Linked DNA regions of Homo sapiens. The gene in region 1 interacts genetically with each later gene. Each region holds a gene or a part of one and is shown in the gene's direction. Other genes may lie near its edges.

What was found.
Region 2: changes in UBE2G2 (region 1) and GBF1 together harm fitness more than expected from each alone (negative genetic interaction), as found in Homo sapiens cells (one study listed by BioGRID).

Annotation. Positions count from the first base shown.
Region 1 is NC_000021.9:44,791,532-44,795,344, reverse strand, and holds part of UBE2G2 (ubiquitin-conjugating enzyme E2 G2), read left to right. Parts: intron 1-3,813. UniProt on the Homo sapiens protein: Accepts ubiquitin from the E1 complex and catalyzes its covalent attachment to other proteins. In vitro catalyzes 'Lys-48'-linked polyubiquitination. Involved in endoplasmic reticulum-associated degradation (ERAD).
Region 2 is NC_000010.11:102,364,010-102,367,822, forward strand, and holds part of GBF1 (Golgi-specific brefeldin A-resistance guanine nucleotide exchange factor 1), read left to right. Parts: intron 1-1,387; coding exon 1,388-1,590; intron 1,591-2,373; coding exon 2,374-2,497; intron 2,498-3,075; coding exon 3,076-3,201; intron 3,202-3,468; coding exon 3,469-3,551; intron 3,552-3,813. UniProt on the Homo sapiens protein: Guanine-nucleotide exchange factor (GEF) for members of the Arf family of small GTPases involved in trafficking in the early secretory pathway; its GEF activity initiates the coating of nascent vesicles via the localized generation of activated ARFs through replacement of GDP with GTP.

The DNA of each region.
Region 1 (3,813 bases):
TAAAAATTTTAGCCATTCTATTGGGTGTATAGCAGTCTTACTGAGGTTTTGTTTTATTTATTTATTTTTTTTTATTTTTTATTTTTGAGGTGCTCTCTCTGTCATCCAGGCTGGAGTGCAGTGGCATGATCTCAGCTCACTGCAACATCTGCCTCCTGGCTTCAAGTAATTCTCCTGCCTCAGCTTCCCAAGTAGCTGGGGCTATAGGCGCGTGCCACCACACCTGGCTAATTTTTGTATTTTTAGTAGAAACGGGATTTCACTATGTTGGCTAGGCTGGTCTCTAACTCCTGACCTCAGGAGTTTGCCTCGCCTCCCAAAGTGCTGGGATTTACGGGCATGAGCCACAGCCCCCGGCCCTTACTGAGGTTTTCATTTGCATTTCCATAAGACTCGTGATGTTGAGCATCATTTCACGTGTTTATTTGCCATCCATATGTCTTTTTAGATAAAGTGACTTGAGTCTTTGCTTCTTTCAAAATTGTGTTGATTTTCTTAAGTTTTAGTTCTTTGGCTGGGCGCAGTGGCTCACGCCTGTAATCCCAGCACTTTGTGGGCTGAGGTGGGCGGATCACGAGGTCAGGAGATGGAGACCATCCGGGCTAACACGGTGAAACCCCCTCTCTACTAAAAATACAAAAAATTAGCTGGGCATGGTGGCGGACCCCTGTAGTCCCAGCTACTCAGGAGGCTGAGGCAGGAGAATGGCGTGAACTTGGGAGGTGGAGCTTGCAGTGAGCCGAGATCACGCCACTGCACTCCAGCCTGGGTGACAGAGCGAGACTCCGTCTCAAAAAAAAAAAAAAACAAAAAAAGAAGGGTTTTTATTATTTCGATGAAATTCAATTATTGACTTTTAAAATATTTCTTGCTATTGTGTTATATTTAAGAAATAACTGCCAAACATCAGGTGGCAGTAGGATTTTCTCCTATGATTTCTTCTAGATGTTTTATAGTTTCAGCTCTTGTATTTAGGTTTGGGATCCATATCAAAGTTTTCCATATGGTATGAGATAAAGGCCAAGGTTTATTTGTAAATTATTTGTAAATGGCAGTGCAGTTGTTTCAGCACTGTGTTTGCTAGGGCTGCTCTACCACACAGGCTGGGCACGGCTTAAACAACAGAAATGTATTTCCTCATAGTCCTGGAGGCTGGAAGTCCAAGATCAAGGATAGGGCAGGGCTGGTTTCTTCTGAGGCTCTGTCCTCTATGCCTGTGTCCTCATCTCTTCTTAAAAGGATATTAGTCAGATTGGATTAAGGTCCACCCTAATGACCACATTAATTTTAATTACCTCTTAAAGGCCCTAGTCACACACTTTTCTCCACCTTCTTTTTTTTCATGTAATATGTCCTGAAGTTTGTTCTGTACTAGCATGTAGAGGTATTTATAGCTGCAAAGTACCCCACTGGTATATGTATCATAATTTGACTGGTCCTCTGTTGATAGACACTCAAGTTCTTTTTAATTTCTTTTTGTTTTTACAAATAGTCCTGAAATGAATAGCCTGTGTATACATTTTTTATCTTCACCAATGTTATCTGTGGGATGGATTCCTAGAAATGGAATTGCTGGGTCAAAGGTTATATTTCACTTTGTGTGGTAGCTATTTGTTAAGCCACTATTTTAAGTGGCAAGGAATGGCCTCTGAAAATTTCCCTGATACCAAGATTCGTCTCTTTTTTTGAACTTGTTTCTTATCAGTAAACATGAAACTGTATATTATTTTGTGTACGCGTGTATATGCTTTGGAAGCAAAAAACAAAATGGAAAAAATAAGTGCCCTGAACCATTCCCTCCAGCCTCTGAACTCATTTGCTGCACTTCTTTATTGACCAGTAGAGGCCACTGTTGAATAACAAAGCTGGCGGGAAGGCCAGCGCACACCCGGGCAGGTCTCTGTGCTGAGCCTGCATTGCCAGGAGCAGGTCTGGAGCTGCAGTTTTTAGACCACCCTTTCCCCTCCCTAAGGGAGGGTGTCACGCAGGGGAGTGCCAAAGGGGAACTCCAGATGAAGAATAAAGCCAGCTCTCTTTGGTACGAGCTCTTCTTCATGGTCCCACGAAGGTGATTTGTAAAGCTTTTGTGTGTTCTGCTGCCAGGCCTCTACTTAGTTGCCCACTGACATTGTGTTTCTCCCGCACCCCACCTGCTTAGCAGTTTACAGTCTATCTGCCGTAATCTGTTATTTTTTTCTTATAATTAGGCGGTTTGGCTTGAGACACAAGAATGGGACTAGATTTTAGATGACTGGGTGTAGGAAGCCTAGCAAATTAGGTTCTGTGGTTATTTCTCCTGATCTACTCCACATGAAGAGACACAAAGGGAGAACATCAGGGTGTGGCTTGTGAAATCCAAGGTCTTAGTCGGCTTGGTACTTGACCTCATTCACATTCAGTTCCCACCCACCCCTGAAATGTTTAATGCACTTGGCCCTTGGGGCCAGCACTTGCCTTTGGCCTGCCTTGCTGGCCCCTCCTTGCCACTCTGCCTTCTCTCACTGCTGGGTGTCAGCACACCCTTGTGACAGCACTTAGGTCTCTTCAGGACCTCTGTTTCCTGGATCAGGGCTTCTCAGCAGGTGTTAGTGGTATTTTGAGTGAAATAATTTTTCCTTGGGTAGGCCTTGTTCTACCCAAGGTTGTGGGTTCATTAAACGGTTAATCGGTACATTAGTCCGTTCTTATACTGCCATAAAGATACTACCTGAGACTGGGTAATTATAAAGGAAAGAGGTTTAGTTGACTCACAGTTCTGCATAACTGACGAGGCCTCAGGAAACTTATAGTCATGGCAGAAAGGGAAACAGACCTCTTCTCAAGGCGGTAGGAGAGAGAAGAGCAAGCCAAGGAAGAACTTGCCACACACTTATAGAACCATCATGTCTCCTGAGAACTCGCTATCACGAGAACAGCATGAGGGAAACTGCCCCCATGATCCAGTCACCTCCTACCAGGTTCCTCGCTCAACACTTTGGGGATTACAAGTCAAGGTGAGATTCGGGTAGGGACACAAAGCCAAACCATGTCATTTCTCCCCCTACCCCTCCCAAATCTCATGTTCCTTTCAAAACCATTCCATTTCAAAACAAATCATGCCTTCCCAGCAAGGCCCCCAAAGTCTTAACTCATTTCGTCATTAACTCAAAAGTCCAAGTCCAAAGTCTCATCTCTGACAAGGTAAGTCCCCTCTGCCTAGCAGCCTGTAAAATCAAAAGCAAGTTAGTTACTTTCAAGATACAATGGAAATACAGGCATTGGATAAATACTCCCATTACCAATGGAAGAAATTGGCCAAAACAAAGGGCTACAGGCCCCCATGCAAGTCCGAAATCCGGCTGGGCAGTCATTAAATCTTAAAGCTCAAAATGGTCTCCTTTGTGACCCCGTGTCTCACATCCAGGGCACACTGATACAGGGAGTGGCTTTCATGGTCTTGGGCAGCTCTGCCCCTGTGGCTTTGTAGGGTACAGCCCTCCCACACCCACCCCCTTCAGCTACTTTCATGGTGGGCATTGAGTGTCTTTGGCTTTTCTAGGTGCACAGTGCAAAGCTCTTGGTGGATCTACCGTTCTGGGGTCTGGAGGATGGTTGTTCTCTTCTCACAGCTCCACTAGGCAGTGCCCCAGTGGGGACTCTGGGAGCTCCAACCCCACATTTCCCTTCTGCAATGCCCTAGCAGATGTTCTCCATGAGGGCCCTGCCCCTGCAGCAGATTTCTGTCTGGACATCCAGGCGTTTCCCTACATCCTCTGAAATGTAGGTGAAGGTTCCCAAACGTCAGTTATTGAATTCTTTGCACCCACAGGCCCA
Region 2 (3,813 bases), on another chromosome or scaffold:
TGCGCAAATGCTGTACCAGTTGAGAGCCAAGTGTCACTAGTGGCAGTGACAGGAGCCTTGGGAGTTGGTGTCTTGTGGGTCATTGAAGGTTACTGTCATCTCCAGCTCTTGCAAGATGATTGGCAATAAAGGGAAATTGATATTCATTCTGGTGCTTTAGTAAGGTTCAAATAGTAAGGTTCAAATAACTGTTTGTACTTTGGATTTCTTTTTTTTTTTTTTTTTTTTTTTTTCAGACGGAGTCTCTCTCTGTTGCCTAGGCTGGAGTGCAGTGGCATGATCTCAGCTCACTGCAACCTCCACCTACCGGGTTCAAGCAATTCTTCTGCCTCAGGCTCCCAAGTAGCTGGGACTACAGGCGTGTGCCACCATGCCTGGCTAATTTTTTGTATTTTTAGTAGAGACGGGGTTTCACCGTGTTAGCCAGGGTGGTCTTGATCTCCTGACCTCGTGATCTGCCCACCTTGGCCTCCCAAAGTGCTGGGATTACAGTCGTGAGCCACCATGTCTGGCCTGTACTTTGGGTTTCTTAACACAAAGAAAACCTAACCCTTTCTGGCCGGGCGCAGTGGCTCACGCCTGTAATCCCAGCACTTTGGGAGATCGAGGTGGGCAGATCACCTGAGGTCAGGAGTTTGAGACCAGCCTGGCTAACACGATGAAACCCCGTCTCTACTAAAAATACAAAAATTAGCTGGGCATGGTGGTGCATGCCTGTAATCCCAGCTACTCGGGAGACTGAGGCAGGAGAATCAGTTGAACCTGGGAGGCAGAGGTTGCAGTGAGCTGAGATCACGCCACTGCACTCCAGCCTGGGCAACAGAGTGAAACTCCATCTCGGAAAAAGAAAAAAAAAACCTAACCCTTTCTTTCTCTTATTGCCAGCTTAAATGACTTTGGTTCATGTGTGCCCTTGAGTACCTGGCCGTGACTGGACATACAGAAATATGAGTTGCCTCCACAGTTAGTCCACTTTGTCTTTCAAACCCAGGGCATTAAGCTAGGCAACCAAAGAAGCTAAGCTAGGCTAAAAACAAGAGGCTGGCTATCAACAAATGTCAGGGATGGATATAAAACTGGAGAGAAGAATTACCTAGTTTCTTTCTTCTACTTTTCCCCCAATCCTAAGTTAGAGAAGAGGAACTGTTTTATGTATCTTGAGCACTCAGGAAAGGAGTAAAAAAGAGCTCGTAAGCCAATTCAATTAGACATGAAGATGGGGGAAGCTAAGGCCATTATGATCTAGCCTTAGTTCTGTAATCACTAAGAACCACATCCTAGGAGCTTTTTAGCTGACCAACTGTGGGTGGGCTATGGTGGACTCCAGGCTGGCCTTGTCTAATTTAGAGGCAAAGTAGCTTCTATACCTCTAGTTTTTCTCATGCAGCTGCTAATCACTGGCACAGAGCAGTTCAATCAGAAACCAAAGAAGGGGATTCAGTTTCTGCAAGAGAAAGGCCTCCTCACCATCCCAATGGACAACACAGAGGTTGCTCAGTGGCTCCGAGAGAACCCTCGGCTGGACAAGAAGATGATTGGAGAGTTTGTGAGTGACCGCAAAAACATTGACCTGTTGGAGAGCTTTGTGAGGTGAGGAAGCTGTAAGAAATGTGGGATATAGCCAGGTATGGTGGCTCATGCCTGTAATCCTGACACTTTGGGAGGCTGAGGCAGGCAGATCACTCGAGCTCAGGAGTTCAAGACCAGCCTGGGCAACATGGTGAAACCCTGTCTCTACAAAAAATACAAAAATTAGCTGGGCATGGTGGCATGTGCCTGTAGTCCCAGCTGTTCAGGAGGCTGAGGCAGGAAGATCACTTGAGTCTGGGAGTTCGAGGCTGCAGTGAGCTGTGATCATGCCACTGTGATAGAGTGAGATAGAGTGAGATAGAGTGAGATCATGCCACTGTGATAGAGCTGTGATAGAGTGAGACCTTGGCTCAAAAAAAAAAAAGGTGGGACATGGTTAGTGATCAGTTTAAAGGGACAGAACATCCCTACCTCAAAGCGGTCTCTATAAATTTCTTCTGGAGACCCTAGCCAATGTTCTTCCTCTACCCATCATTTATATCTATTGGACCTGAAAGGGACTCCAACGAGATAGTTTGGGGAGCCCCCTCCATTCTGCATGGAGTCCATTCCAAAGGGGTAGAGCAGGGTTCCAGGGGGTGAGGGTTCTAGGCAAGAGTCCGTGGATGTGAAAAGTATTAAGGCTAGGGGTTGTGTTAGGGATGAACAGGAGATACTGCCCCTTTACTAGAGACCTCAGCCTCCTCTCTTCCAGTAAGAGTAGGTTAGGAGGACAGTGACTAAAAGAGCCTGACATGTGCAGCTTACACATTTTCAGCCTCTTCTTCCTTTCTTTCCCTATAGCACCTTCAGTTTTCAGGGTCTGCGACTGGACGAAGCCCTCCGCCTCTACCTGGAAGCCTTCCGTTTGCCTGGGGAAGCACCAGTCATCCAGAGGTTGCTGGAGGCATTCACAGAGCGTTGGATGGTGAGTTTGAGTGTCAGGGGCTGAGCCCAGGATCCAAGGTCAGTTTGACTGAGGGCTGAAGAATCCAGCTGCTGTCTCTTTTTTTTTTTTTTTTTTTTGAGACAGAGTCTCGCTCTGTCACCCAGGCTGGAGTGCAGTAGCGCAGTCTCAGCACACTGCAACCTCCACCCCCCGGGTTCAAGCAATTCTCCTGCCTTAGCCTCCTGAGTAGCTGGGATTTCAGGCACCTGCCACCAAGCCTGGCTAATTTTTGTATTTTTAGTAGAGATGGGTTTTGCCATGTTGGTCAGGCTGGTCTCGAACTCCTGATCTCGGGTGATCCGCCCACCTCGGCCTCCCTGAGTGCTGGGATTACAAGCGTGAACCACCGCACCCAGCCTGCTGTCTCTTAAAAAGTCAGAGAGCAAAATTAGTGACCTTTCCACAAAGAGATCAGCTTCTGTTAAGGAGTTGGCAAGAGACTGGCCACTTTCTGGATGGTACCTCTCCTCTGTACTAGCACTGACCAGTGGGTTGGTAGTGAGGGTTTAATTGGCCAGAGAAGGGCATTGACACAGGCGGGATCTTTGCTTTTTCAGAATTGTAATGGCTCCCCATTTGCCAATAGCGATGCCTGCTTTTCCCTGGCCTATGCTGTCATCATGCTTAATACTGACCAGCACAACCACAATGTTCGTAAACAGAATGCACCCATGACCCTGGAGGTAAGCTTGGGTCCCAGTCAAGGCAAAGAAGACCCAGCACAGCTTGGGAGGTAGCAGGAAGGACATAGGATTTCCAGTGGGCATGATGGATGGGGTTCTGTCCAAGGGAATCAGGAAGGGCTGGCCAACCTAGAAAAGGGACTGGGGTGGGGAAGTGGGTTTTTTCGCTTACCTTTTCCTAAGTCCTATTTACTGAAAACCCAGGAGTTCCTTAGGTGGGGCTTCAGTGTTGACACAAGGGGAAAAAACTTACTGGCCTGTCTCTAGGAGTTTCGCAAAAATCTGAAAGGTGTGAATGGAGGCAAGGACTTTGAGCAAGACATCCTGGAGGACATGTACCATGCCATCAAGTGAGTATACATAGAGAATAGTGCAGTATCTCTGTTAAGAAGAAGCACATTGCTTCCTTTCCCAGTTTTTAGAGTCATGTCAGACTGCAGTGACTCACATGCCCTGGATTTAGCCTCAGGACTTAGTTGGGCAGCCCCCTCTCTGCCAACTGTTTCTTCCTTAAAGAAGCCCAAATGATATTGGGACTCTAGTACTCTAAGCCAGGGTCCAAAGTGCTGCTCTTAAGTAGGATATCATGGCCCCATTTTCTGAACTTAAAAC